Linked DNA regions of Homo sapiens: all the other regions are linked to region 1. The links come from fine-mapping of genetic effects on gene expression. A gene starts in region 1. Each other region holds a variant in brackets. All regions are shown on one strand. Distances are from middle to middle. Region 1 holds the start of TRIOBP (TRIO and F-actin binding protein). Region 2 overlaps TRIOBP (TRIO and F-actin binding protein). Region 3 has its middle 14 kb from the start of H1-0. Region 4 overlaps TRIOBP (TRIO and F-actin binding protein). Region 5 has its middle 8.2 kb from the start of LGALS2. Region 6 has its middle 12 kb from the start of MIR4534. Region 7 overlaps BAIAP2L2 (BAR/IMD domain containing adaptor protein 2 like 2).

Region 1 (4,076 bases):
GTGCCGTGATGTGATCTTGGCTCACTCGGCTCACTGCAACCTCCGCCTCCTGGGTTCAAGCAATTCTACCTCAGCCTCCCCAGTAGTATCTGGGATCACAGGCATGCACCGTCATGCCTGGCTAATTTTTGTATTTTTAGTAGCAACGGGGTTTCGCCATGTTGGCCAGGTGAACTCCTGACCTCAGGTGATCCGCCCCCTTCGGCCTCCCAAAATGCTGGGATTACAGGTGTGAGCCACTGCATCCGGCCCCTAATGTCTTTTTTGGGGAGGTGGGGGCAGGGTCTTGCTCTGTCACCCAGGCTGGAGTGCAGTGGCTCGATCATAGCTCCTTGCAACCTCAAACTCCCGGGCTCAAATGATTCTCCTGCCTCAGTCTCTGGGACTGAGTAACTGGGACTACAGGTGTACGCCACCACGCCCAGCTAATTTTTTTCTTTTTTATTTTGTAAAAATGGGCTCTTGGCCAGGTGCGGTGGCTCACGCCTATAATCCCAGCACTTTGGGAGGCTGAGGCAGGCAGATCACTTGAGGCCAGGAATTCAAGACCAGCCTGCCCAACATGATGAAACCCTGTCTCTACTAAAACTATAAAAATTAGCTGGGCGTGGTGCGCATGCCTGTAATCCCAGCTACTCAAGAGGCTGGGGCAAGAGAATTGCTTGAACCCAGGAGGTGGAGGTTGCAGTGGAGCTAAGATCGCCCCGCTGCACTCCAGCCTGGGCAACAGTGTGTCTCAAAAAAAAAAAAAAAAAAAAAAAAGGCTCTTGCAGTGTTACCCAGGCTGGTTTTGAACTCCTGAACTCCTGACCTCAAGTAATCCTCCTCCTTCCCTCAAAGTGCTGGGATTACAGGTGTGAAGCATCATACCCTTCTGAAACCCTGGTGTCTTTCTTTCTTTTTTTTTTTTTTTTTTTGAGACAGAATCTCGGTCTATCACCCAGGCTGGAGTGCAGTGGCGCGATCTCGGCTCACTGCAACCTCTGCCTCCCGGATTCAAGCAATTCTCCTGCCGCAGCCTCCCAAATAGCTGGGATTACAGGCATGTGCCACCATGCCCGGATAATTTTTTTGTATTTTTGGTAGAGACGAGGTTTCACCATATGGGCCAGGCTGGTCTCGAACTCCTGACCTTGTGATCCACCCACCTCGACCTCCCAAAGTGCTGGGATTACAGGCTTGAGCCACCGCGCCCGGCCGCCCTGGTATCTTACTTGTGCAAGGGTTCTCCTTTCTGGGTGCCCCTAAGGCCACCAACATCCATGCCCTGGAGTGGAGCTGGGTCAGGAGAATCACTTAAAGATGGCCTCCCCACTCACACAGAGCCCCAGGGGGAGGGTGGGGGGTGGGAGGAACCCAACATCCCAAAACACCTGCAGCTTTTGGTGCCCCCAGGTCACCTGCCCACATCCATCCTCACCTGCTGTGTTCCAGGGGATCAGGCTTTTGTGGCCAATCTTGGTGGAGAGCTGAGGAATTTCACCTCCTCCCCTGGGACAGCCAGGGCCAAGGCTCCTCCATCATCAGACCTGGAGAAGGGAATGCGGTGGGGGCGACAGCAAGGCACGGTGGGGAGAGGGCTACCCACTGGTCCTTCCGTGGCCCCAGGGTCTCTGATCCTCCCCGGGCGGTCGTCCTCCCGACTCCTGGTGGTGGAAGAGGGGCGCATCGGCCCCGCCCGTCCTGGGCGTTTCTCTCCTGGTCTGGCCACATAAAGGAGCGTCGCCTAGCAGGAGAACGCCGCTCATTTTCCTGGGGGTGGGTAGGGGGCTCTACTCCACGTGCCCCTCGCTGCTCCCGTTTCCTCCCCTACCCACAACCAATAGGCAGAATCCTTCTCTAAAATGCACTTGAGATGTGGATATAATAATCAAAACCTTAAGCAGCTACACATGCCCCACCCAGAGAATGGACCCGGGACCCTCTCCATCCAGGCATTCAGCCAGTTCCTCCCCGGATCCCTCGACCCCTACCCCTCCTGTAGGCCTCCCCCTACCAGCTCCTCTTTTCTGAGGCCCAGTGCTAACCTTGGCTGGGTTTCCACGCACAGGGGCTGCCGGGGTGGGAGTGCCAGGGTCATGGCCTCTTTATTTTAACAATGAATCAGAGCGATGCTCGGGAGGTGGAAGGCCACGCCCCTGCCACGCTCGCATAGGCTCTCTCTGGGTGCCTCATTTACATGAAGACTGTGGGACTCTGTGGGACTGGACAAACCAGAACAAGGGGCGGGGCGGAGGCAGGCGGGGCGCAGATACCTCTGAGAGCGGGACTCACTGCACGTTTAGCCTGGGCCGCCTGCAGCCCTTGCCCGCTGGGGGTCCCCAGGGAGCCCTGGAGAGGGCTGGCACTGGCGGATCTGGCTCCTTCTGACCTCTTTCCCGTTGGTTCATTCTGCCGACAGTCCGCTGGGCTGGCTTTAGCACAGACCTTGGACTAGAGTCTTAACCTCTCTGTCATGACAGTTTTCTTACCGAGGAGGCGGAGGTTGCAGTGAGCTGAGATAGCGCCATTGCACTCCAGCCTGGGCGACAGAGCAAAACTCTTGTATAAAAAAGAAAAAAAAAATAGCCTGGCGTGGTGGTGTGCGCCTGTAGTCTCAGCTACTCAGAAGGCTGAGGCAGGAGCATCGCTTGAACCCGGGAGGCGGAGGTTGCAGTGAGCCGAAATCACACCACTGCACTCCAGCCTGGGCAACAGAGTGAGACTCCGCCTTAAAAAAAAAAAAAAAAAAAAAAAAAAAAACTTGTTTCCCATCTTTTTTCCTTTTGGTTGATATTTGCCAATTGTGGCGACTGGGATGGGAGGAGGAGGGCGAAATTCACTGGACAGGGAGGAAGGTTGCAGCAGGAGTCCAGGAGAGATGGGTGCAGTGATGAGACAGGGAAGGTAAACTAGATTCAGACACTTGTAGGCAGGTGAGCTTGGCACTAGGGTCACAGAAATCTTAGATTATTTTGAGAGTTGTTGGGGATCACCTGGGGGTTGGATTCAGACAGGATTGGCTGAGAACCTACATTGACACAAGCTTGTGCCCAGAGCAGAAACAGAAATGACTAAGATACAATTTCTCACTCAGAAAGCTCTGGTCTGGTTCGAGGGACAAACCAGGATTCACTGTGTTCAGTGTTTAAAAGAAGGAAACACCTACTATCATGGGAGGTCAGGTGGAGAAAGGAGGAAGGCAGAGAAGGCTTCTCCTTGGAGGTGGCTCAAAGGTGAGGAGATCGAGAAAGGCTGAGAACAGCCTGCAAACCTCTGAAGGTGGCTGGGGGAGGCCAATGCTAGCTCAGAACAAGGCGGGCATTTCTAGCAGTCCTCACAAGGGAGCAGGCAGTGAGCTCTCCAAGCTCAGGAGGAACTGAAGCCCCTCACCAGAGCCACCTGCAAGCCAAAGGAAGGTCAATGGCTCAAACCTGGGGGCGTCAAGGTCGTCAGCACCACTGGGACCTTGGAAAGGATGGACGCTGAGGCTTATATGACCCCAGAACACCTGCCCCCACAGTTCCTCACCTCACCCCCCTGGGGAGAGCTCAGGCCACCCCAAAACAGATCGTACCAAAAGAAGTTTTATTTTAATGGGCTGAGCCCAGCCTCAGGTAACTATGGCCACAGCTCATCATGTACTAGCACAGGGCCTGACCTTGGTGTGAAAACCGAGGATGGATAAATGTCTGCTGTGACTTTAGCTCCACACAGATGGATCCCCTCATGACAGCCCTTTATATATTTGGCTTCTGTGAAATAATCTGCTGATTATACCCCAACACCCATTCTCTCATTTTTTTTTTTTTTTTTTTTTTGAGACAGATTCTCGCTCAGTTGCCCAGGCTGGAGTGCAGTGGCGCGATCTCTGCTCACTGCAAGCTCCGCCTCCCGGGTTCATGCCATTCTCCTGCCTCAGCCTCCCAAGTAGCTGGGACTACAGGTGCCCGCCACCACGCCCAACTAATTTTTTGTATTTTTAGTAGAGACGGGGTTTCACCGTGTTAGCCAGGACGGTCTTGATCTCCTGACCTCGTGATCTGCCCGCCTTGGCCTCCCAAAATGCTGGGATTACAGGTGTGAGCCACTGCGCC
Region 2 (4,076 bases), 58 kb before region 1:
GTGGTCACCCTGCCAAAAACTACACTCGCAGTATTCCCACAGCTACTTGTAGCCATGTGACTATAGGCTGCCGAGTGGGTGTGGCAGGTGGCTCCCCTGAAACGGCAGAGCGAGCCCCACCAGGCCAGGACTGCATACCTCGGGGCTGTTCTGAAGGGAGACATGAACATCTATCTCGATGAAGTTACTGTGCCCGGGGTTTCTTTCTTAAAGCAGCTGGGCCTAGATGCTAAATAACAGTCCAACTGCACAGTGCTTCAGAGTTCACAAAGTGCTCTGGGCACATCCTGGCACATGTACAGACATGACATGCTAACGTGACAGATGGGGACTCTGAAACCTAGACAGGAAAGCCTCTGGCCTAAGGCTGAATAGCCGCGGTGTGGCCAGTCTGGGGGACTCGGCCTCCGGGCTCAGGTGATCCTCCCACCTCAGCTGACAGGCGCACCCTACCACGGCCAGCTGATTTTTAAATTTTTTGTAGGGACGAGGTCTCACTATATTGCCCAGGCTGGTCTTGAACTCCTGAGCTCAAGTGATCCTCCCATCTCAGCCTCCCAAATCGCTGGGATTACAGGTGTGAGCCACTACACCCAGCCCAGCCCCCTTTAATACCACACTCTGTTCCCGCTGCCCAGCAGCTCCAAGTCCCAGCCCGCCATGGGCATCTGGGTATAAACTGTGGGGGGCTCTGCCACTCGGTAACTCAGCCCTCCTGCCCCAGTGCCCGTGGCAGCCTCCAGAAGGAGTGAGCTCCCCATCCCGGGAGGTGTGGGCGCCAAGGCTGAACTACCTAACCACCCCTTCCTAACACAGGCTTAGACACGGCCCCCACGGCACAGACACAGAGACAGAACAGCCACCTGGCAGGGGCTTTTGACTCACAGGCATCTCCTCCAAAGAGAAGAGGCCCCATCACATTTGAGAAGACAGATCAAACCTCAAACCCTCAGTGTACTTCTGGATGATACCGAGAATGCTCACTACTCTCTTCCCATGTTGTTGACAGAGAAACGAGGGCCCAGAAAGGTGCAGCCCTCAGGTGAGTACCTAGAAACCCACTCGGGGACGCAAGGGTAAGTGCCTCCCTCAAGGCCCCAGTCCAGCTTAGTACGTACTTGGTGACATCTGGGGCTGAAGTTGGACGTACGGTCTTTCTCAGAGCCTCGATCCAGTTCCGCCGGATGCCTGAGGTCATGGCCGACAAGGTATAGACAGCATCCTTGGTCTGCAAGGCCACCGCATGGGTAGGTTGCCACATGGCCAGCCGCATGACTCCCTCCCCACTATGGACCCCAGGGAGGGTGGCCCTTCCTTCCCAGGATGCATCTAAGGTCTTGAGTCTGGGGTGGGCAGGGGGTACAAAACCTCCCTTCCATTGGCCTGGGAAGAGCCCTGCTGGCTCCAGCGTCTCCCCCAGATATGCTAAGTGTTGGCATCACAGCTCTGGCTCTGAAGATAGGGCCTCTGGGTAAATGAGTGAAGGGATCCAGTCTCCATGGTGAGCCATGTTCAACACCAAAACCTCCCCCAGGGACCTCCAGCCATGCTGCCCACCACCAGCCCCCAAGCTGCACACAGCCTCACGTGGATCTGGAAGCCATAGTTGCGCTG[C/T]ACCGCGTACTCAGTGACATCCGTGCAGGAACGCAGGTCGATCTCACCATCCAGCTCATCTGCCTGGAGCAAGAGGGCCCACTATGGTCCGTGTGGGCCCTGGTGTGACCCACCCCAGTGAACCCAGCCAGGCCACCCCAGGCCCTTCCGGGGGTTCATCAGTACACCCATGGCCTCACCTCCTCAGCAGTGGAGTCTCTGTAATATTTGAGACTTGAATCTGTCAGCACAAACCAATGTTTCTTCCACTGCGAAGTAGAGGTGGTGGTGAGCGAGGGGGAGGGAGGCTGCAAGGAGGATGGAATGAAAGAGCCAGTGTGTGTGATTGTACAGGTGTCCTGTGTGGCTGCCAAACTCACTATGCTGCACACAGGAGGGGTGGGGAGGCGGAAAATGCCAATTTGAGACCTGGCCCCTCCATTTCCTCTCTGAGCCTCAGGGGTAGCATCTGTGAAATGGATTGGTTTCCCCTCCGTAACCACACCCTCCCTTTCCTTCTTGGAGCTCCTTTTAAGATTGCCAAGGCTCCTCAGGCACCCCGGACCCAGTGCAGACAGGGAGGGGTGATGACCTGTGTAAGCAAGTCAGGGACTCAGCGGGGCCAGGACGTTACGTCTTTTTCCATATTCCCCCAGATCATCACCATGGTCAGGGACAATGGTCCCCTGGGAAGTAGGACTGGATGGAGCCCTGGAGTAGGAGTGAGTGCCAGCCACAATCTGCTGCCTTTTTTTTTTTTTTTTTTTGAGATGGAGGAGTTTTGCTCTTGTTGCCCAGGCTGGAGTGCAATGGTGCAATCTCCACTCACTGCAACCTCCCCCTCCTCCTGAGTTCAAGTGATTCTCCTGTCTTAGCCTCCCGAGTAGCTGGGATTACAGGCGCCCGCCATCATGCTCAGCTAATTTCTTGTATTTTTAGTAGAGATAGGGTTTCATCATGTCAGCCAGGCTGGTCTCAAACTCCTGGCCTCAGGTGATTCACCTGCCTTGGCCTCCCAAAGTGCTGGGATTACAGGCGTGAGCCACCGCGCCCAGATGCACGGTCTGCTTCTTGAACTGTAGGCTGGCTACCCACATCCGCAGCAGGTGAGAGCGCCCTAAGCTGTAAGTTTAGGATTTGTGATTGGGTGCCTTCCTGCAGTGCCTGTCTCTGCTCCAGCTGGGGTTAGATTGGCAGGACATGTAGGAAAGGGGTGGGGGCGCCAGAACAGCCTGATAGTATGCCAAGCCCAGCCCACCTCTGGGCTTCTGGTCACTCCACTGGAATGCCAGTCGCGGCCCGCCCACTGCCAGGGTCAGTGCATATCACCCGGTCCCCAGCCCTCCCAGGGTTCCCTCACATCACCAAGCCCTGTCTGTGCTGTTGGTTGTTTCAAGTACTTAGTTTTCTCTCCTCAAGAAGATGGTAAGTTCTCAAGGGGCATGCAACGACGATACCTTCTGCTTCTTTCCACATTGCCTCCCTGAGAAAAGGAGTTTTGTATCCAAGAGTTCCCTTTCTCTCTGTGTGCCTTTAGGCAAGTGTCTCCACTTTTCTGAGCTTCAGTCTTCTGAACCATAAAGTAGGGCTACTAAGAAGTCCCTATAGCTGGGCGCGGTAGCTCGCGCCTATAATCCCAGCACTTTGGGAGGCTGAGAAGGGTGGATCATCTGAGGTCAGGAGTTCGAGACCAGCCTGACCAACATGGAGAAACCCTGTCTCTACTAAAAATACAAAAAAAAATTAGATGGGCATGGTGGCGCATGCCTGTAATCCCGGCTACTCGGGAGGCTGAGGCAGGAGAATCGCTTGAACCCGGGAGGCGGAAGACACAGTGAGCCGAGGTTGCGCCACTGCACTCCAGCCTGGGCAACAAGAGTGAAACTCTGCCTCAGAAAAAAAAAAACAAAAATAAAAAACAAAAAAAGAAGTGCCTAGACCTTCTGGTGAGGCGAGCGGCGCCCATCCTCTCTTGTGTGGATGGCTGTCATGGCCCTTGGCATAGGGATGGACACCAACCAGGTTGCTGGGTTTGTTCTGGGAGGCCAGGCCTCTTAGAAGCATTTTCCTCTCACTAAGTAAACGGAGTTGCTGCTGCAGACCTCAATTGCCTCTCTGTAAAGTAGGACAGGGGTTCTATGCCAAGAGGTTTCTTTAGCTCTTCCAGGCCTAGCCTATGACTGTCTGAGATGGAAGCTGGGTGGAGCTCCATGGGCCTCAGGTGCGCTGAGTTCTGAGCCTGGGTCTGCCCCAGGTGCTCCTAGGCCTGGAAGAGACCAACACCCTCATGGGCCCGTCTCCTGTCTGTGCACCAAGGGGTTGGGCTGGCTGAATTCCCAGGGCCCTTCCAGTTCGGACATTCCAGAACCCTGTGATAGAGGATGACTAATGGCCAGCTCTGGGTGGGGCCTGTAATCCCTCTGCCCTCCGGGGACCCTGGGTGGGGAGGCCAGGAAGGGGTCACTGGCGGGGTGCCGGGCTTT
Region 3 (4,076 bases), 94 kb before region 1:
CAAAGTGCTGAGATTACAAGTGTGAACCACCAAGCCTGGCCTTTTGTTGTTGTTGTTGTTTATTTGTTTGTGACACAGGGTGTCACTCTGTCACTAAGGCTGAAACACAAATCATGGCTCACTGCAACCTTGAACTCCTGGGCTCAAGTGATCCTCCTGCTTCAGCCTCCCAAGTAGCTGGGACCACAGGTGCGCATCACCACGTTCAGCTAATTTTTAAAATTTCTGTAGAGATGGGGCCTCACTATATTGCCCAGGCTGGTCTTGAACTCCTGGCCTCAAGTGGTCCTCCCAGCTTGGCCTCCCAAAGTTCTGGGATTACAGGAAACTCCATGCTCTTAATCAACTCTCAAAACTGCCTTTCTCTTAACCTGGCAGGAGGTGGGCAAATTTGTGGCTAGTCTGGGGACCGCCAAGAGAAATGAGATTGGGCCCCAGTTCCTCTCTCCTGATAGGATTAGCTGCTATCTGACCCATCAGGACAGTCCTGTCCAGCTGGCAGAGAGGACACTCATGCCTCAAAGGAAATAACTCACTCCATGGGAAGTAGATGTGGACAGGTGACCCAAGCTCAGTGCCAGAGGCCAGGCATTGGTGAGGGACACAGGTGCCATGTGTGGTTTGGGCTGAAAGTCCTGTTGGACCTGCCCACTCTGGCGTCATTTCCTTTTTCTTTCTTTCCTCTTCTTTTTTTTTTTTTTTTTTTTTTTTTGAGATAGAGTCTGGATCTGTCATCCAGGCTGGAGTGCAATGGCGCAATCTCGATCGCGGCTCACTGCAACCTCTGCCTCCCAGGTTCAAGCGATTCTCCTGCCTCAGCCTCCCAAGTAGCTGGGATTACAGGCATGCACCACCACGCCTGGCTAATTTTTGTATTTTTAGTAGAGATGGGGTTTCACCATGTTGGTCAGGCTGGTCTTGAACTCCCGACCTCAGGTGATCCGCCCACGTCGGCCTCCCAAAGTGCTGGGATTACAGGTGTGAGCCACTGTGCCCGGCCTAAGTTTTGTATTTTTAGTAGAGATGGGGTTTCACCATATTGGCCAGGCTGGTCTTGAACTTCTGACCTCAAGTGATCCACCTGCCTCAGCCTCCCAAATTGCTAAGATTAAAGGTGTGAGCCACTGCGCCTGGCTTGGCATCATTTTCCTTTCAGGGAGCTGAGCTCCTGGAGTGAACTGAGAGGACTGCCTCGGGGCCCACGCAGTGCACCACTAGGCCTTGCAGAGTAGGACTGGCCTTCTTTGGACAGAGTGAGTCCTTGGGATTCCCAGACTATTCTGGAAGAGACCTCAAGAGGGAGATGCTGGGCTTCTTAACAATAAATGAATGAGGATGCAGGAGAGATTGGTTAAAAAAGCAACCGCAAGCACTGTGGCTAGGGTTGTTCTCCAAGCTGGTGAAGTGGCCCGTGAGTGCGTGTACATGTGTGGACACTCCATGTTCATAGTAATGATTTTCTCTGAGAAATGGATTTGGGTCACAGTGCACTGTTATTTTTTACTTTATACACTTCTTTTTGTTTGTTTGTTTGGTTTTTTTTTTGTTTTTTTTTTTGAGACAGAGTCTTACTCTGTCGCCCAGGCTGGAGTGCAGTGGCGCAATCTCGGCTCACTGCAAGCTCCGCCTCCCGGGTTCACGCCGTTCTCCTGCCTCAACCTCTCCGAGTAGCTGGGACTACAGGCGCCCACCACCACGCCCGGCTAATTTTTTGTATTTTTAGTAGAGACAGGGTTTCACCGTGGTCTCGATCTCCTGACCTCGTGATCCGCCTGCCTCGGCCTCCCAAAGTGCTGAGATTACAAGCGTGAGCCACCGCGCCCAGCCTAGTTTATACACTTCTATACTGTTTTAGTTTATAAACAATAAGCGTGTCTTTTTTTTTTTTTTTTTTTGAGACTGCGTCTCACTCTGTCGCCCAGGCTGGAGTGCAGTGGCACGATCTCGGC[TCACTGCAACCTCCGCC/C]TCCTGGTTCAAGTGATTCTCGTGCCTCAGCCTCCCAAGTAGCTGGGATTACAGGCACTACTTGCCACCACGCCTGGCTAATTTTTGTATTTTTAGTAGAGAGGGGTTTCACCATGTTGGCCAGGCTGGTGTTGAACTCCTGACCTCAGGTGATCTGCCAGCCTCGGCCTCCCAAAGTGCTGGGATTACAGGCGTGAGCCACTGCGGCTGGCCATGTGTATTACTTTTTTTTTTTTTTTTTTTTGAGACAGGGTCTCTCTCACTCCAGTTGCCCAGACTGGAGTGCAGTGGCTTGGCTCACTGCAGCCTCTATCTCCCTGGCTCAGGAGATTCTCCCACCTTTGCCTGCCGAGTAGTTAGGACTTACAGGCACGCGCCACCACGCCTGGCTAATTTTTTGTATTTTTCGTAGAGACGGGGGTTTCACCTGCCATCATGCTCGGATAATTTTTGTATTTTTGTATTTTTGTAGAGATGCGGTTTCACTGTGTTGGCCAGGCTGGTCTTGAATTCCTGACCTCAAGTGATCCACCTGCCTTGGCCTCCCAAAGTGCTGGGATTACAGGTGGGAGCCACCATGCCCGGCTGGGAAAATATTTTCTCCTCCATGAACCATACTCTCAATGCACTAACTGGTGCTGTGACAAGCACCAGGGACAACAGGGACTGCTCTCTGGTGAGGGCCATGCCCAACTGGGGCCCAAATGCAGCTGGCATCAGTCCCTGCAGGTATTCACATATGCTTTGGTGCTGGCTGGGGGTGGAGCACACAGCGCTGCTTGCAGGGAGGAGTGGGTTTCTTCAGAAACGTTTAGGGCCCTTCCCCCATAGACATTAAAGATGTTAAACATACCTTAGGAGGCAATGTGGGCTGGTAGGAGAAGCACCCAAATCTGCTGTGTGACCTGAGGGCATTTGCTAATCCTCTCTGGGCCATGTGGGTGATCCTGTAAACTGAAGGTTTGGATGGACTTCTTCTATCTGCTAGAAGTCCCAAAGTCTAGCATAGTGGTGAGGCCCAAGTACTGGAGGTCCAGGTTGTATGGTTTCAAATCCCAGCCCTTCCAAGTCATAAGTATGAGGGTCTTGGCAAAAATAATAATGACCCTTCTGTGCCTCAGTTTCCTCCCCTGGGCATTATAGTAATTGGCGATAATAATGGCATTTGCCTGATAGAGTTTTCTTGAGGACTAAATGGATATGTATGTTATAAATACATACGTGTGTACATACTCTGTATGTAGCAAATGATAGATATCATATGAGTTATATATCATTATATATCTCACTTAGAAGTTCCTGACACAGGCCGGGCATAGTGGCTCATGCTTGTAGTCTTGGCACTTTGGGAGGATGAGTGGGGGGTATATCACCTGTGGTCAGGAGTTCGAGACCAGCCTGGCCAACATGGTGAAATCCTGTCTTTACTAAAAATACAAAAATCAGCCGGGCATGGTGGCACGTGCCTGTAATCCCAGGTACTCGGGAGGCTGAGGCAGGAGAATCACTTGAACCCGGGAGGCGGAGGTTGCAATGAGCCGAGATCGCGCCACTGCATTCCAGCCTGGGAGACAGATCTCCGTCTCAAAAAAAACAAAAAAATGGAATTCCTGACACAAAGTAAGTGCAGTTTAAGTATTAGCTGTTTTAGTATTAGCAGTTAAGTATTAGCTGTATCATCCTTGGTATTTCAGACACCTGGACAGAAATGACGTGTTTACCCAAAACAAGGCAGCAGAGGTTCATGACCATGTTAAGTATCTTTGTTTTTGGCTAAGCTTTATATCCATTCAGTGTGGGAGCAATGGATTTTCTTCCACTGATCCAAAGCTTTGATTGGCAGTTCCACGTGACTTTACTTGAGTTTTTACTGTTTAATTTTTAAAAATTTATTTGTAATTAATTATTTTTTTGAGACGGAGTTTCACTCTTTTTTTTTTTTTTTGAGACAGAGTTTCGCTCTGTCGCCCAGGCTAGAGTGCAGTGGTGCGATCTCGGCTCCGTGCAAGCTCCACCTCCCGGGTTCACGCCATTCTCCTGCCTCAGTTTCCTGAGTAGCTGGGACTACAGGTGCCCGCCACCATGCCCAGCTAATTTTTTGTATTTTTAGT
Region 4 (4,076 bases), 72 kb before region 1:
TACTCGGGAGGCTGAGGCAGGAGAATGGCATGAACCCGAGAGGCGGAGCTTGCAGTGAGCCGAGATGGTGCCACTGCACTCCAGCCTGGGTGACAGAGTGACTCCGTCTCAAAAAAAAAAAGAGAAATAAAATATCGGCTGGGCACGGTGGCTCACGCCTGTAATCCCAACACTTTGAGAGGCCGAAGTGGGCGGATCACCTGAGGTTGGGAGTTCGAGAAGAGCCTGACCAACATGGAAAAACCCTGTCTCTACTAAAAATACAAAATTATCCAGGCGAGGTGGCACATGCCTGTAATCCTAGCTACTTGGGAGGCTGAGGCAGGATAATCGCTTTTTTTTTTTAATATTTTTTTTTTTTTTGAGACGGAGTCTCGCTCTGTCACCCAGGCTGGAGTGCAGTGGCACGATCTCGGCTCACTGCACGCTCCGCCTCCCAGGTTCATGCCATTCTCCTGCCTCAGCCTCCGGAGTGGCTGGGACTACAGGCACCCGCCACCGCGCCCGCCACCACGCCCGGGTAATTTTTTTGTATTTTTAGTAGAGACGGGGTTTCACTGTGTTAGCCAGGATGGTCTTGATCTCCTACCTCGTGATCTGCCCGCCTCGGCCTCCCAAAGTGCTGGGATTACAGGCGTGAGCCACCGCGCCCGGCCAGGAGAATCGTTTTAACCTGGGAGGCGGAGGTTGTGGTGAGCCGAGATCGCGCCACTGCACTGTAGCCTGGGCAACAACAGCAAAACTCTGTCTCAAAAAAAAAAAAAAAGTAAAGAAATAAATACTAAGGCCGGGTGTGGTGGCTCATGCTGTAATCCCAGCACTTTGTGAGGCCAAGGTAGGCAGATCACTTGAGGTCCGGAGTTCGAGACCAGCCTGGCCAACATAGTGAAACTTGTCTCTACCAAAAATATAAAAAATTAGCTGGGTGTGGTGGTGCAGGCCTGTAATCCTAGCTACTTGGGAGGCTGAGGCAGGAGAATCGCTTGAACCAGGGAGGCAGAGGTTGCAGTGAACTGAGATCGTGTCACTACACTCCAGCCTGGGTGACAGAGAGAGACTCTGTCTCAAAAAAAGAAAGAAAGAAAAAGAAAGAAAATACTACAGTGATACTGGCATCACACACATACACACATATTTTCTTACCCCAATATTTCCCAGTAAGGAAGGTGCTGGTGCCATTTTACAGATGAGCTACTGGGACTCAGAAAAGTGGAGTGATTTGCTATGGTACACGGCAGGTAGGTGACACAATGCAGGTGGGAGGGCAGAATGCTGGCTACTGGATGCACAGTAGGTGTTCTAGCCTAGTCAGGCTGGCCCAGCCACTGGGAGACTTGGCTTTCCTGCCACAGGTGATACCCAGCCTATGGCGGGGGTGCCCCATAGCCCCGGGCCCCGAGAACCACTGGGCTGCCTGGTGCTAGTGAGGACACTCACCTCTAGCTCGCAGGAACTCCGCTCGTTGCTGCGCCCGCAGCCATTGCCCATGCCCTGCGAGGCAATGAAGCCGCGCAGCTGGTCTATCTCCTCTGACAGGCGGCCATGCAGCTCCTGGGAGAGGCACGGTGGTCAGGGGAGGGGTGCCGGGACCCACCCGTGTCCCCCCAACCTGGGGCCAGGCCCACCTGGTTGTGGCGCAGCAGCTCCTGGCCCTCCTGCTGGCAGCGGCGCAGCGTGTGCTCGCGCTCCTCAGCCTGCCGCATGAGTGCCCCAATCTCCAGGCACTTCTGCGAGTACTGCTCCGATAGCACCTGCAGCTCTCGCTTCAGTGCCTCCACATCTGACCTGCCCCAGAGGAGGAGCAGAGGAGAGCATAGGTTGTCTTGCTCCTGCCAAGCCTGGAGTCCAGTCAGGTAGACTTAAAGCATCCCAGGACTCTGGGGTTCCCTCTCTAGGTTTGCCTTTAGCCTGCTGTGGGGCTGTGAACCAGTGACAGCTTCTCTGGGCTACAGGTGTTTACCCTAAGTGAGGGTGGCTTGGAGGAGCCCATCTTTTTTTTTTTTTTTAGATGGAGTCTTGCTCTCACTCTTGTTGCCCAGGCTGGAATACAATGGCACAATCTTGGCTCACTGCAACCTCTGCCTCCTGGGTTCAAGCGATTCTCCTGCCTCAGCCTCCCAAGTAGCTAGAATTGCAGGCTCCCGCCACCACATTCAGCTAGCTTGTATTTTTAGTAGAGATGGGGTTTCACCATGTTGGCCAGGCTAGTCTCGAACTCCTGATCCCAGCCTCCCAAAGTGCTGGG[A/GA]TTACAGGCATGAGCCAATGTGCCCGGCTGGAGGGGCCCATCTTTAAAGTTAAAGCCCCTGAAACCTCAACATTCCAAAACTGTGCTCTGGGGCAGGGAGAGGCCTAGTGGTCAACAGTGACACTGCAGCCCAGCTCCAGGGGAGACTAAAGGGGTGAAGAGGTGGGTGGAGGCTGGGACCAGCCAAGACAAGAAGCTGCCTGAAGGACTGTCTGTGAGGACTGGCATGGGGTCTGCCTGAGGACCTTCTGCTTCTGTTTCTTGCATCCATGAGACTGGAGCAGGAATCTCAGCTAGGGGCAAACTGATGTGTCCGCTGCCAAGGGGCCTCAGCAAAGTTCCTCAACCCATAACCATCAGGGTGGGCAGTTGGGCCCCGGCATCATCTTACTGGTGCTGCTTCCGGAGGCCATCCGGGCCCTGCTGGAGACTCCGTGTTTTGCTCAGCTCTCGGCTCAGCTCTTCCTGGTAGGCCTTCTTCATGGCTTCAATGGCTGGAAGCAGGGCAGAGAGGCACAAGAGAGACTGGAGGGGGGTCAGCAGCACCAAGTGCCACCAGCTCTGAGACGCCACATGTACTGGTGGAGTACTATGTGGACTCCACATAGTACTATGCAAGTACTATGGACTTGGACCAAGGAGTGCTATGCAAAGAGCACCGAACCAGGAGTCTAGAGTAGCCCAGGTTGTGTCATAAACTGAGTGGCTTGGGGTAAGCTCTCAACCTCTCTCAGCCCATCTATTAAGGGAAGATAATCCTGTTGGATGGACCCTACTGGGGAGACAGCTCAGGGTCTGACCATTGGTACCTCCTGTTCTAGTGATTTCCAGGTAGGACCCCACCTAGTACACCCCCCCTGCAGACTCTGAGGGCTCTCAAACAAGGCCTATCTGCTTTGACCAGCCTCGTGGTCAAGAGCTCAGGCTCCACAGTCAGCATAAACCGATGTGACTTTGCACAGGTGACTTAACCCCTTGTGCCTCAGATCCCTTATCTGGAAAACAGGGATCGATAACAACAGTACCTTTCCTCCATGGGGTTATTGGAAGGTGTGTGAAGAATTTAGAACAAAGCATGGCTCAGAGTAAATGCCCCAACATTAGCTCCTGCTGGCTTTATTCTCAGATTGTGAGCTCCTAAGGACTGAGACCGAGGCTTTTTTTTTCCCACTCAGGGCCACCCATGGTTTTACCCACAATTCTAAAATCCGAAACTTCTGAACATTGAAAGTTTCTCTCCTTTTTTTCTTTCTTTTTTTTTTTGAGACAGAGTCTCACTCTGTCACCCAGGAGACGGAGTCTCACTCTGTCACCCAGGAGACGGAGTCTCACTCTGTCACCCAGGCTGGAGTGCAGTGGCACAATCTTGGTTCACTACAACCTTTGCCGCCCACTTTCAAGCGATTCTCCTGCCTCAGCCTCCTGAGTAGCTGGGATTACACGCGCCTGCCACCGCGCATGGCTAATTTTTGTATTCATAGTAGAGACAGGGTTTCACCATCTTGGCCAGGCTGGTCTTGAACTCCTGACCTCGTGATGCACCTGCCTCGGCCTCCCAAAGTGCTGGGATTACAGGCATGAGCCACAGTGCCTGGCCTTTTTTTTTTTTGATGGAGTCTTACTCTGTCATCCAGGCTGGAGTGCAGTGGTGCAATCTCAGCTCACTGCAGCCTCTGTCTCCTGGGTTCAAGAGATTCTCCTGCCTTAGCCTCCTGAGTAGCTGGGATTGCAGCTGCCCACCATCACGCCCAGCTAATTTTTGTATTTTTAGTAGAGATGGGGTTTCACCATGTTGGCCAGGCTAGTCTCGAACTCCTGACCTCAGGTGATC
Region 5 (4,076 bases), 110 kb after region 1:
GTGCCTCAGCCTCCTGAGTAGCTGGGATTACAGGCATGAGCCACCATGCCCGGTTAATTTTTGTATTTTTAGTAGAGATGGGGTTTCACCATGTTGGCAGAGCTGATCTTGAACTCCTAACCTCAGGTAATCCACCACCCTTGGCCTCCCAAAGTGCTGGGATTACAGGTGTGAGGCATCGCGCCTGGCCAAGAATCGAAACCTTAATTTATAAAACCAAACAAGTGCCAGTTGCCTGCTAGGAAATGGACAGACTGGTGCAGCAGTGGTGAGGTCTCTTTACCTCTTTGCAAAATTGGCTCCTGTGCTGGGCTGAGGATGTGGAGTGTGAAGGCCAGAGAGGGAAGGGCTGGAGGACTCTAGGATTCTGCAGGGAACAAAGGTGGGCCAGTGAAATCCCCAGCTTGGGAGGTGGCTGGTAGGGGCAGGAGGAGCTGGCCGAGGGGGAAACTGAAACCCAGAGATCCTTAGACATTGAGCTGGAGGTCATCATACCCAACCCCTTTTGCTCCTGCTGGGGGAACAAGGGTTGGGGCTGTCACGCGTACAGAGGAGAGAATGGAGCAGAGAATGCCTGCTCCAGGAAGGTCCCAGATAAGCACCTAATTAGCAAACTAAGATGCAGGCGAGAGACCTCGCAATGGCCCAATGTATGCAGAGTGCTGAGCAAATGCCAGCCAATTAGCTATTAAATACAGAATAATAATAGTTGAGTACCTACTATGTGCCATATTCTGTATGCCAAGCCCATTACATACATTCTCTAGGAAGCTGAGGCTACCTGGCCTGCCCAAGGTCACACAGCCAGTAAGAGGCAGCGAGGACTTGAGGCCAATGCCATTCCATGAAGGTGCCGGAGCAGGCAGCAGCTCTGGACACCCAGCCACAGTCTCATCTGCTCTCCTGCAGCCCATGGTCTCCCCAGGGGCTCTGGGAATTAGGGGAGAATTCATGACCGCTCTGGTTGGTGGGTCTCGGGGGTTGTGAACTTGACCTGCAAGGGTATTACGGCACCTAGGTCCTGCTCCCATCCTAAAAATAAAGGGTCAGCTTCTGAAATGGACATTTCCCTGAAGGCCTGTACCTGTTGATTTTGGCCTTCAGGAAAATGTCCATTTAAACCAAGCTGCTTCTGGAATCCTTTGGATTCTGATTCTGGGAGATGAGGCCCTGGGGGCTCATAGGTGTTTCCCCTTGAGGAAGGAGGCTTGTATATGTACGGGGTGCTGCGGGGAGGCAGCCCAGATGGTCCTGAGACTGCAATCATCAGAAAAGCAGTGATGGCAGCAGAATCTGTGTGGCCCAGGGCAGAGCTGGGGCCAACTGTGAGAGGAAGGGGATTGCCCCCAGGGACAGACTTCAGTAAGAGTGGGGGTTTCCAGTGGCCATAGGTGCTCAGGGTGGATCAGAAGCCTTGGGAGTGGGTGTGCTCCTGCGACTAGGGCTGCACTTGGCGGGGGACCTCCTTTGGTTGTTTACCACATTAGAGATGGATAAATGCTCCTCTCCCTGCTTGGCAAACACAAAGATTGAGGCGGATATAGTCCTGTCCTTGGCAGATATAATCCTGCCAGAAGCTGGGGGTGGGGTGGGAATGCTGGGGTGAGCAGCGTTGCTTCATTGCTTCTGTTGTTTTAGCCTCTCCTCACCATCCCCAGGTACCCGCCCGCATGGACAGCTGTGACTGGGTGATTAAGATGCAGAAGGCTCAGGTCAGGCGCTGTGGCTCACGCCTGTAATCCCAGCACCTTGGGAAGCCAAGGCAGGCAGATCACCTGCGGTCAGGAGTTCAGGAAAAGCCTGGCCAACATGGTGAAACCTCGTCTCTACTACAAATACAAAAATTAGTCGGGCGTGATGGCGGGTGCCTATAATCCCAGCTACTTGGGAGGCTGAAGCAGGAGAATCACTTGAACCTGGAAGGTGGAGGTCACAGTGAGCCGAGATTGCACCACTGCAGTCCAGCCTGGGCAACAGAGCGAGACTCTGTCTCAAAAAAAAAAAAAGGCTCCACTATCCATGGAAAGACTGTGTGGCCTGGGCCAGGGAGAAGGAACTGCACTCAGGACTCAGGTCACCTGTCTCTGAGGAAGAGCACTCAAGGACCACCCAAGTCACAGAAGCAGCTTGGTTTATATCTTCAATTTCTAAAGACACAGAGATGGAAAATCTTCTTGCCACTTATAAGAAGGTGGACACAGAACCTGATGATCTTTTCTGTAAATCCACCCAGCACCACACGTGCATAAGTTGGCGTGGCCCTGAGA[C/T]GGAGGCTTCCTGGTTCAAAAGGCTGGGATGATAAGCCAGGGAGGGGGCAGGAGGGATGGAGGGAGGGGCCGTGCTGCACCAGATTGGGGCCCTGAAGATACCCACCCTTTGGGGCTCTATGATGAGCAATTCCTCCTGCTGATCCACCATCCATGCACCCACCCCTCCCTCCACCTCCTCACCCATCCACCCACTTAACCATGCATCTTTTTTCTTTTTTCTTTTTCTTTTCTTTTTTTTGAGATGCAGTCTCACTCTATTGCCCAGGCTGGAGTGCAATGGCCCGATCTCGGCTCACTGCAGCCTCTGCCTCCCAGGTTCAAGTGATTCTCCTGCCTCAGCCTCCCGAGTAGCTGGGATTACAGGTGCGCACCACCACGCCCAGCTAATTTTTGTATTTTTAGTAGAGACGGGGTTTCTCTGTGTTGGCCAGGCTGGTCTCGAGCTCCTGACCTCAGGTAAGCCACCCACCTCAACCTCCCAAAGTGCTGGGATTACAGGTGTGGGCCACCACGCCAGGCCTCTTTTTTCTCCTTTTTTGAGGCAGAGTTTCACTCTGTCACCCAGGCTGGAGTACAGTGGCACAATCTCGGCTCACTGCAACCTCCTGGATTCAAGCAATTCTCCTTTCTCAGCTTCCAGAGTAGCTGGGCTTACAGGTGTGTGCCACCACGCTTGGCTAATTTTTGTATTTTTAGTAGAGACAGGATTTCACCATGTTGGCCAGGCTGGTCTCGAACTCCTGAGCTCCCTCTCCCTGACTCCCCTCTCCCTCCACACCAGTTGCAAGTCTGAGCCTCTGGACTTCAAGTTGGGGATCCCACGACCCCTCTTTGGGTTCAGTTAATTTGTTAGAGTGGCTCACAGAAGTCAGGGAAACATTTGTGTGTACTGGTCTATTATAAAGGATGTTATAAAACATACAGATGAAGAGATGTTTAGGGCGGGTTATGGGGAAGAGATGCAGAGCTTCCCCTCCCACCTGGGAGCACCATCCTTCAGGACAGCCATGTGTTCAGCTATCTCAGAAGCTGCCCAAACCCAATCCCCTGGGGCCTTTTATGGGGACTTTATTATGCCGGCATGATTGACCTCTGTGTAGAACTGTGAATGGGCAAAAAGGATCTGATCTAATATTACTAGACGAAGTGTGGAACCCCCGCAAGGCCCGTCTGTTCAGATTCTTCTTGGCCTCTCTGTGCAGCATTTCTTACTCCAAGGGATGGAGCAGGACCCCTTCTGAAATGAGGGTCTTATGACAAGGTAGGTCAGGGAATTTCTTTTTTTTTTTTTTTTTTTTTTTTGAGATGGAGTTTTGCTCTTGTTGCCCAGGCTGGAGTGCAATGGTGCGATCTCGGCTCACTGCAATCTCTGCCTCCTGGGTTCCAGAAATTCTCCTGCCTCAGCTTCCCGAGCAGCTGGGATTACAAGCATGCACCACTACGCCTGGCTAATTTTATATTTTTAGTAGAGATGGGGTTTCTCCTTGTTGGTCAGGCTGGTTTCGAACTCCCAACCTCAGGTGATCCGCCTGCCTCGGCCTCCCAAAGTGCTGGGATTACAGGCGTGAGCCAACGCGCCCTGCCAGGGAATTTCTTTACGGAAGAATTTCTGTGTTTTTTTTTTTTTTTTGAGATGGAGTCTCATTCTTGTCACCCAGGCTGGAGTGCAATGGCGTGATCTTGGCTCGCTGCAGCCTCCCAGGTTCAAGCGATTCTCCTGCCTCAGCCTCCTGAGTAGCTGGGATTACAGGTGCGCATCACCGCGCCCTGCTAATTATTTTGTATTTTTAGTAAAGACAGGGTTTC
Region 6 (4,076 bases), 300 kb before region 1:
TACTAGAAATACAAAAATTAGCCGGGCATGGTGGCAGGTGCCTGTAATCCCAGCTACTCAGGAGGCTGAGGTGGGAGAATTGCTTGAGCCTGGGAGGCGGAGGTTGCAGTGCCCTGGACACTTTATAAGACTCTTGTGGGTCCCACTGACCCCACATTGCATCAAGCATGTTGAAATGTACCCACGTCACATGCTACATAGAACTGGTTGGCTATAAACAAGTTTTAAAGAGTCTTTTTTATTTTTCATTTAAAATTTTGAATAATTTCTCTGTTGCTATTTTTGTATACTTTGGAGCTGGAGTTTTCTTCTTTAGTTCTTAAGCACTTTTGTGGCCCAATAAAAAGTCTAGAAGTGATATGCTTTGTCCAAGTTTGGGGAAAAAAATAAATTAAAAAAAAAAAAAAGGCCAGGTGTGCTGGCTCGCGCATGTAATCCTAGCACTTTGAGAGGCTGAGGTGGATGGATCACCCGAGGTCAGGAGTTTGGGACCAGCCTGACCAACATGGTGAAACCTGGTCTCTACTAAAAATACAAAAATTTGTATTTTCGTATTTTTACAAAATACAGGCATGGTGGCAGGTGCCTGTAATCCCAGCTACTCAGGAGGCGGAAGTGGGAGAATTGCTTGAGCCCAGGAGGCAGAGGTTGCAGTGAGCCAAGATCATGCCACTGCACTCCAGTCTGGGCACCAGAGTGAGACTCCATCCAAAAAAAACCACTTGGCCAGGCAAGGTGGCTCACACTTGTAATCCCAGCACTTGGAAAGGCCTAAGCGGGCAGATCACTTGAGGTCAGGAGATGGAGACCAGCCTGGCCAACATGGTGAAACCCCATCTCTACTAAAAATACAAAAATTAGTCAGGCATAGTGGTACATGCCTGTAATCCCAGCTACTCAGGAGGCTGAGGCAGGAGAATCGCTTGAACCTGGGAGGCAGAGGTTGCAGTGAGCCGACATTATACCATAGCACTCCAGCCTGGGCAACAGAATGAGACTCCATCCAAAAAACAAACAAAGCAACTCTATAGTCCAGGAGCCTCCAATGTCAGGCATTCACTGTCTCCATCCCAGTGCTCATCGCTCTCTGTGTCCCCAAAATGAATAAATTCGTAAATTCCCCTAAAAATCTATCTTTAATCTCTCTGAATCTAATATGATGCAACTCACATTATTTCTGTATCTGTCAACTGTGTCTCTATAAGATACTTCTGTAATTTTTATCTGTTCTCTCTAAAGATCTCTGTTCACAACACACTGGGTGTCCAGCAGGCACGGTCGAGAGCCTGCCATGGCCCATGTGTTACCGTTCTTGAGCCTTGCAACAACTCATGAATAAATTCTATTATCCCTGTTTTACAGATTAGGAAACTGAGGCTGAGAGAGGGGAACTAGCTTGCAAGTAAGAGGCCACAGGGCAAAGAAGGGCTCTCAGGAGTGTTGACTCTAGTCCTTCTCTAACCTCTCTCAACCCCTCCTCTCAGTGGTGCTGCACCCATGCCAGCCGCCACTCCTTACTTGCTCCTTTTCCTACCCTCTGCTTCCAGGCAAGACGCAGATGTCATCTCCGTTCATACCCTTCATCTTGCCTCAACATCATCACCCCATTCCATCCCATAAACACTTCCTGAGTTCCTACTATGTGCCAAGCGCTGTGCTGAGAACTGGAATGAAAATAATGAATGCCAAGGTCACCAGGCTATGAGCTCCGAGGGCAGGGACAGAGCCCACAGCAGAGTTGGTGGGTCCTCATCAGCCCCTGTGAAGTGCCTGTGGTCTCCATATGTTCCCAAAGGAAGCTGGTTTCACTTTGAGCATGTTGGAGAATGTTATTTCAAACACCTTACACCTCCAAAGCCAGGCAGGGAGCCCTGGGCTGCCCCTCCTCAATGGTGTTGGCTTATTCCTCTGGGTGGGGCCTGTGTCCAGCAGCCCCTGGGCTGGTGACACCAACCACCCTAGTGCCCTGCACAGACTGCAGAGGAACACAGGGTCAGCACCATCTCGAGGGGCCCAAAGCCACCCTCCTGATAACCCCCCATATTTGGAAAGCACTTTAGTTTGCAAAAGGCTCCACCTTCTTTCTCCGTGTGTCCTCTCCCCACCCCAGCTATAAGTAAGGAATTTTCCCAGCCCACTTGGCCCCTAGCATCCAAGTTTGGGCAAGAACCCAGGAGTCCAGACTCCTAGCCCAATGTAGAAGAGCCTGCCAACTCTGTTTACTCCACAGTGCCCCAGAAAGGCCCTCTCTTTTCTAGACCTCAGCTCCCTGTCAGTACAATAAGAAGGTCCGGCTGGACAACCGCTAAGCTCCCTTCAGGCTTTAGCATGCCAGAGTCTACC[G/A]TGGGGGCGCAGGTGGCCAACTCCCAGGGGAGGAACCGAGGCCAGTGGCTGCACACACTGTGCCTGCACCATGCCGTCAGGGGAGGCATCATGTTCCGGCAGGACCAGCAGGATGAGTCACCAGATATGGAAATGACGCTGGCACACAGGAGGTCTGGGGGCCAATAAGCTCACCCTCGCCAAAACCACAGCTGAGGAGGAACAGTGCTGGGATCCCTGCGATTCGCCTAGCGGGCACAGGCTGCCAGGTGCAGATCCAGGCAGTCAAATGGTGTGCACAGTGTGCCTTCCAGCCCAAGGGTAGTGGAGGCTGCCCAGCCCTCCAATAACAATAATCATCACAATAAAAATAACAACACACAGTGGTTGGCTATTGTGTCGGGCACTTGACACCTGTTACCTTCTCTTACCTCTGAACCTGCCAGTTATGACATGACCCATTTTCAAGAGGAAACCCCGGGGCTCAGAGAGACAAAGGAGCTCTGCCCAGGTCACAGGGCCAAGGAGTGGGGCACCCTGCTCTGACTGCCCCAAAGCCCTCATCCTCCGCACCCCACTGCCTCTGCGTCCCACAGAGTCTAGGCTCATTTCGGCTCGGTGGCCAGCCTGAGGCCCTGGGGAGGGGAAGGGGTGTCAGGACGCCCAGGTGCAGATGACCTGGGAGGATTCTGACTCAGCCCCACAACTGGAGCAGGAGAGCACCACACCCTCCTAGGCCTCCTGGAGCCTCGCCAAGGCCTTCCTTAGGGTATGACATTCGGATGTCAGGAGACCTGCTGGTCCTCAGTGACCACAGGCCAGGCTGAGGCTGCCACAGGGGCCTGAGCTGACGAGGAAGGCTGAGCCCCCTGTGATGGCCGACAAGCTCCAGCATCCCCACACGCAGGCGGCCAAAGGTGCCTGCAGCCACCCGGTAGAAATGTGTCTGAACTGGGCCTGGAGCCAGGCAAGTGGGGCTCCTGGATCCTGGGACAGAGGGTACAACTCAGGACCCCAGGCTGGCACTCCACAGCACCATCCCCAGGGCATTTCCCACAAGGAGCACCTGGATCTCTCAGCAAAGATGGGGGCAGACTGGGAGAGCCCAGGAACTCAGGGCCAGCTGCCCAGCAGGCCCACCTCGGGGTAGAGGGTACGGCCGTCTGGGAATGAGGGAAGACAGAAGGGGGAGGCCCTGGGTGAGGGAATGACAGGAGGGGGTCTTCATCTTGTGTAGGGACGGGGGCGCATCTGTGGTGAAAAGCAGGACCCATCTTGGGGCGGCGGGTCCTCCTACCAGGGCGGGCTCCTGTACCAGCCAGACCCTAATGCCCTGCCTTTGACATCTCCGTCTCAGCCCCCACCACACCTCTCCTCTCCTCTCCTCTCCTCTCCTCTCCCTCTCTCTCTCCCTCTCACATTCCTCTGGGAGTCGATCAGTGCTTGAGTGACACCCCAGATGACTCTTTGCTATTAATTCCCACACACAGAATGGGCCCCTTGTTCTCTTCTCTCGGAGGAATGGCCGTGGCCAAAGCCATCCCAAGAGTCCCTGACTTAACCCTTCTCCTGGCCGGTCCTCTGCACATCCCACGCCCAGGGCCACAGGGCCAGCAGTAGGGAGGGTGCAGAGAGGGAGTCTGGAAGGAACAGGGGCTCCTTCCAGCCCACAGCCCCTGGAATAAAGTCCCCAGGGTGGGACAGCAGGACCACCCCAACCTGCCCAGGGAGCCTGACAGCAACTCCTCACCTGA
Region 7 (4,000 bases), 390 kb before region 1:
GGCTAGTGATGTTAAACATGTTTTCCTGTGCTTCTTAGCTATTTATAGATCTTCTTTGGAAGGAAACTCTTTTTCACCTGTGTTAAACTCCTTTTTGCCTGTAAATAGTTAACCATCAACATTAAGAGAAGAGCTGACCCCCTCCTTGACTGCCTCCTCGTGGGTGAGGGTCCCTCAGGAGGGAGCTGTGGGTTGAACAGGCAGATTTTCCCCTATGCATGGTGTGTTAGTCCGTTGTGCATTGCTATAAAGGAATACCTGAGGCTGGGTAATTTATTTTAAAAGATGTTTATTTGGCTCTCAGTTCTGCAGGCTGTACAAGAAGTGCATTGCCCGCATCTGCTCCTGGCGAAGCCTCTAGAAGCTTACAATCATGGCAGAAGGCAAAGGGGAAGTTCATATCACATGGCCAGAGAGGGAGCCGGTGGGGTGCCACACTCTTTCTTTTTTCTTTTTATTTTAAGATGGAGTTCTGCTCTTGTTGCTCAGGCTGGAGTGCAGTGGCATGATCTCAGCTCACTGCAACCTCCACCTCCTGGGTTCAAGCGATTCTCCTGCCTCAGCCTCCTGAGTAGCTGGGATTACAGGCATGCACCACCATGCCCGTTAATTTTTGTATTTTTAGTAGAGACGGGGTTTCACCATGTTGGCCAGGCTGGTCTTGAACTCCTGACCTCAGGTGATCCACCCACCCACCTCGGCCTCCCAAAGTGCTGGAATTAAGGTGTGAGCCACCGCGCCCGGCCACTGCAATCTTTTAAACAAGGAGATCTTGCATGAACTCATACCACTCATTACCGTGGGGTACAGCACCAAGCCATTTATGAGGGAGCTGCCCCCATCACCTCCCACTAGATCCCACCTCCAACACTGGGGGGTCAGATTTCAAGATGAAATTTAGAGAGGACAAATATCCAAACCATATCACATAGGGAGCAAGTAACATGTTGTCTGACCCAGCTGGACTTTAAAACATCCAAGATCTAACTCCTAAGATAGCTAAGCATATATATTTACTTCTTGTTCTATTTATAAGTAGAAGGCACATTTGGGGTGGGCGTGGTGGCTCATGTCTGTAATCCCAGCACTTTGGGAGGTCGAGGTGGGTGGATCACCTGAGATCAGGAGTTCAAGACCAGCCTGGCCAACATGGTGAAACCCCGTCTCTACTAAAAATACAAAAATTAGTCAGGAATGGTGGCGGATGACTGTAATCACAGCTACTCGGGAGGCTGAGGCACGAGGATGGCTTGAACCCGGGAGGCAGAGGTTGCAGTGAGCCGAGATTGCGCCACTGCACTCCAGCCTGGGCAACAGAGCAAGGCTCGCTCTCTCTCTCAAAAAAAGAAGGCAGCCTTAGAATAAGATTTAAAGAACTCTAGGTGCCCGGGCACGGTAAATTGTCTTTCTTATTCATCTTCGCTAATTAGTCTTTGCTTAGTCCAAGTCTAGTCAGTAACGTGCCTTCCCACCTCATCCTTAGCTTCTCTCGTTTACTGCAGCTGTGCAAATGTATCTCCAGGATAAATTCCTAGAAGTGGAATTGGTAAGCCCAAGAATATAGTCATTGGTTGCACCAGTTTACACTTCCATCAGTGATGTATGAGTTTCTGTGCTTCTGCACCCCTTGACAACAGTGTATGAGCAAACTTTCTGATCTTGGCTAATTAGAAAGGTAAAAATGGTATCTCGGTGTGGCTTTACCTCATACTTGTCTTAAACGCGAGCTTGACATCTTTTCATGTTTCAAAGCCATTGGATTTTCTGTGCTGTGACATGCCAGTATCTTTTCATCCACTTATTAATTTGTAGGAGCTCTTGATATGTTACTGAAACCAGCTTTTTCTTGGTGATGAGTTGCAAATACAATAGCCAGTTTGCCATTATCATTTGCCTGTGTTATGATTGGTTTTGCTATACAAAAACATTATTTTTATTTAGTAAAATGTATCGGTCTTTTCAAGTTTATGGGTTTGGTGTCATACTTAGAATGGCTGTTTCACTTCGTAAATATATTTTTAAAATTTTTCCCATGGCCTCTCTGATGGTTTTGAAACCGTATGCAGTGTTTCTTCTCACCCACCATTTATTTTAATTTTTGTGGTACATAGTAG[G/T]TGTATATATTTATGGGGTACATGAGGTGTTTTGATACAGGCATGCAATGTGTAATCATGACATGCTGGAGAATGGGTATCCATCCCCTCAAGCATTTATCCTTCGTGTTACAAACAATCCAATGATACTTTTAAATCCCTTTTAAAATACGACATGTGACTGGGTGCAGTGGCTCACACCTGTAATCCCAGCACTTTGTGAGGCTAAGGCGGGTGGATCACGAGTTGAGGACTTTGAGACCAGCCTGGCCTATATGGTGAAACCCTGTCTCTACTAAAAATACAAAAATTAGCCAGGAGTGGTGGCGCACGCCTGTAGTCCCAGTTACTTGGGAAGCTGAGGCAGAATAATCACTTGAAGCCGGGAGGCGGAGGTTGCAGTGAGCCAAGATCGTGCCACTGCACTCCAGCCTGGGCAACAGAGCGAGACTCTGTCTCAACAACAACAACAAGAAAGATATGCAGAACCTAATGCTCTCACTTTGCTTATGTCTCTGAAACTTCTGCACAAAGGCCTTCGGGTTTTATCTTTGTGCTATTCTGCTAATTAGTTACTGCAGGGAAACAGAGGGGCTGTCCACTTAGTGACCAGCTAGACTAGTTGCTCCAGTGATGGGAGGCACCAAGCCTTCCCGTTATTGCTGCCTGAGTTTGACGTGAGGTTTTTAGTCATGGGGCCAGGTTCAAGGCAGAAATCATTGAAAGTGTAGTCGTAGGGGGCATCTTCAAGGACAGACCAACACAGACCCCTTCAACGCTTACTGAATGTGACACCTTGAGCCAGTCACTTAACTTCTCTGACCCTCAGTATCTTCTTTTATAAACTGGAGATAATAATTGCACCTACCACCCAGGGCTATTGCGAGAATCAAGTAAGATAATGCAGATAAAGCGTTTAAAGCAGGGCCTGGTATGGAGTCACTGCTCGACAAAGGGAGCTTTTCTTAAGGTGACCGTCTTGAGCTAGGCCTTGAGGGACAGGGATGTTTGAAAAGAGGGAGCGATCTTTATGGCTGGAGAATGCAGCATTCTGATTGTACCTGGGATTTTATTATGACTGAGTGACAACACAGAAAGGTCAGTGCCATTGAAAGAAGTTTTAGGCCAGGCTCGGTGGCTCACGCCTGTAATCCCAGCACTTTGGGAGTCCGAGGGCAGGCAGATCACCTGAGGTCAGGAGTTTGAGACCAGCCTGGCCAACATGGTGAAACCCCGTCTCTACTAAAAATACAAAAATTAGCTGGGCATGGTGGCAGGCGCCTGTAATCCCAGCTACTCGGGAGGCTGAGGAAGGAGAATGGCATGAACCCGGGAGGCGGAGCTTGCAGTGAGCCGAGATCGCGCCATTGCACTCCAGCCTGGGCGACAGAGCCAGACTCCGTCTAAAAAAAAAAAAAAAAAAAAAAAAAAAAAATGCATTTTCCATAGTGTTACTGGGTAAGTAAGTAATGGGACTGGGTTCTTTGGTCGTAGTTTCTATCTAAGCGCCATTCCTGAGCCTATCGCTGCAGGAAGGAGGATGGGGTGATTGAGTGGCCAGGCCTGGGTGCCACCCCTACCCCTGAAGCTGGGCGGTGAGGACAGCCCCGCTCAAAGCACACACATTGACGCGGGAAGCGGGGGGTCAGAGGAAGCTCTTCGTGGAAAATGGAGGTGCCTTTGCCAAAAGTAGAGGGTGCGGGTTGGACGGTGAGCTGGCTTCTGGCTCCTTCCAGCTAGAAAATCCGGTCGTCCCGAGCTGGTAGGGCCTGAGCTCTCAGGTCGAGGGTGTCATTTTGGGTCCCCAGGATTCAGGGAGCCGCCCGGACCTGGCTGACCCCCGTGTCCCCGCCCGGCCAGGCCCGGGGGATGCTCCAGAACCGCGTGCTGCTGTGGAAGGAGCAGTC

The links. PIP is the estimated chance that this variant, and not a neighbour inherited with it, causes the effect.
Region 2: its variant is fine-mapped to the expression of TRIOBP in whole blood (INTERVAL, PIP above 0.99).
Region 3: its variant is fine-mapped to the expression of TRIOBP in whole blood (INTERVAL, PIP 0.90).
Region 4: its variant is fine-mapped to the expression of TRIOBP in monocytes after LPS (Quach 2016, PIP 0.95).
Region 5: its variant is fine-mapped to the expression of TRIOBP in gastroesophageal junction (GTEx, PIP 0.99).
Region 6: its variant is fine-mapped to the expression of TRIOBP in whole blood (INTERVAL, PIP 0.98).
Region 7: its variant is fine-mapped to the expression of TRIOBP in whole blood (TOPMed, PIP above 0.99).

What each region holds. Positions count from the first base shown.
Region 1 is chr22:37,695,041-37,699,116 of GRCh38, reverse strand. It overlaps TRIOBP (TRIO and F-actin binding protein), which reads right to left and starts at 2,069. Exons shown (of 24, transcript NM_001039141.3): 1 at 2,028-2,069; 2 at 1,421-1,529.
Region 2 is chr22:37,752,702-37,756,777 of GRCh38, reverse strand. It overlaps TRIOBP (TRIO and F-actin binding protein), which reads right to left. Exons shown (of 24, transcript NM_001039141.3): 13 at 1,794-1,901; 14 at 1,588-1,677; 15 at 1,119-1,228. Among named protein-coding and RNA genes, the nearest start is that of H1-0, 50 kb to the left of the region's middle. RefSeq lists enhancers at 757-1,956, 3,604-4,076, 4,039-4,076. The variant C/T (reference allele first, on the strand shown) is at 1,615.
Region 3 is chr22:37,789,230-37,793,305 of GRCh38, reverse strand. No RefSeq gene overlaps it. Among named protein-coding and RNA genes, the nearest start is that of H1-0, 14 kb to the left of the region's middle. The variant TCACTGCAACCTCCGCC/C (reference allele first, on the strand shown) is at 1,950.
Region 4 is chr22:37,766,737-37,770,812 of GRCh38, reverse strand. TRIOBP (TRIO and F-actin binding protein) reads right to left here. Exons shown (of 24, transcript NM_001039141.3): 19 at 2,637-2,739; 20 at 1,626-1,785; 21 at 1,438-1,551. Among named protein-coding and RNA genes, the nearest start is that of H1-0, 36 kb to the left of the region's middle. The variant A/GA (reference allele first, on the strand shown) is at 2,246.
Region 5 is chr22:37,586,272-37,590,347 of GRCh38, reverse strand. No RefSeq gene overlaps it. Among named protein-coding and RNA genes, the nearest start is that of LGALS2, 8.2 kb to the right of the region's middle. The variant C/T (reference allele first, on the strand shown) is at 2,268.
Region 6 is chr22:37,998,481-38,002,556 of GRCh38, reverse strand. It overlaps a transcript of POLR2F not described here. Among named protein-coding and RNA genes, the nearest start is that of MIR4534, 12 kb to the right of the region's middle. RefSeq lists a silencer at 3,681-3,975 and an enhancer at 3,365-4,076. The variant G/A (reference allele first, on the strand shown) is at 2,344.
Region 7 is chr22:38,089,628-38,093,627 of GRCh38, reverse strand. It overlaps BAIAP2L2 (BAR/IMD domain containing adaptor protein 2 like 2), which reads left to right. Exons shown (of 14, transcript NM_025045.6): 8 at 3,954-4,000. Among named protein-coding and RNA genes, the nearest start is that of SLC16A8, 7.4 kb to the right of the region's middle. The variant G/T (reference allele first, on the strand shown) is at 2,115.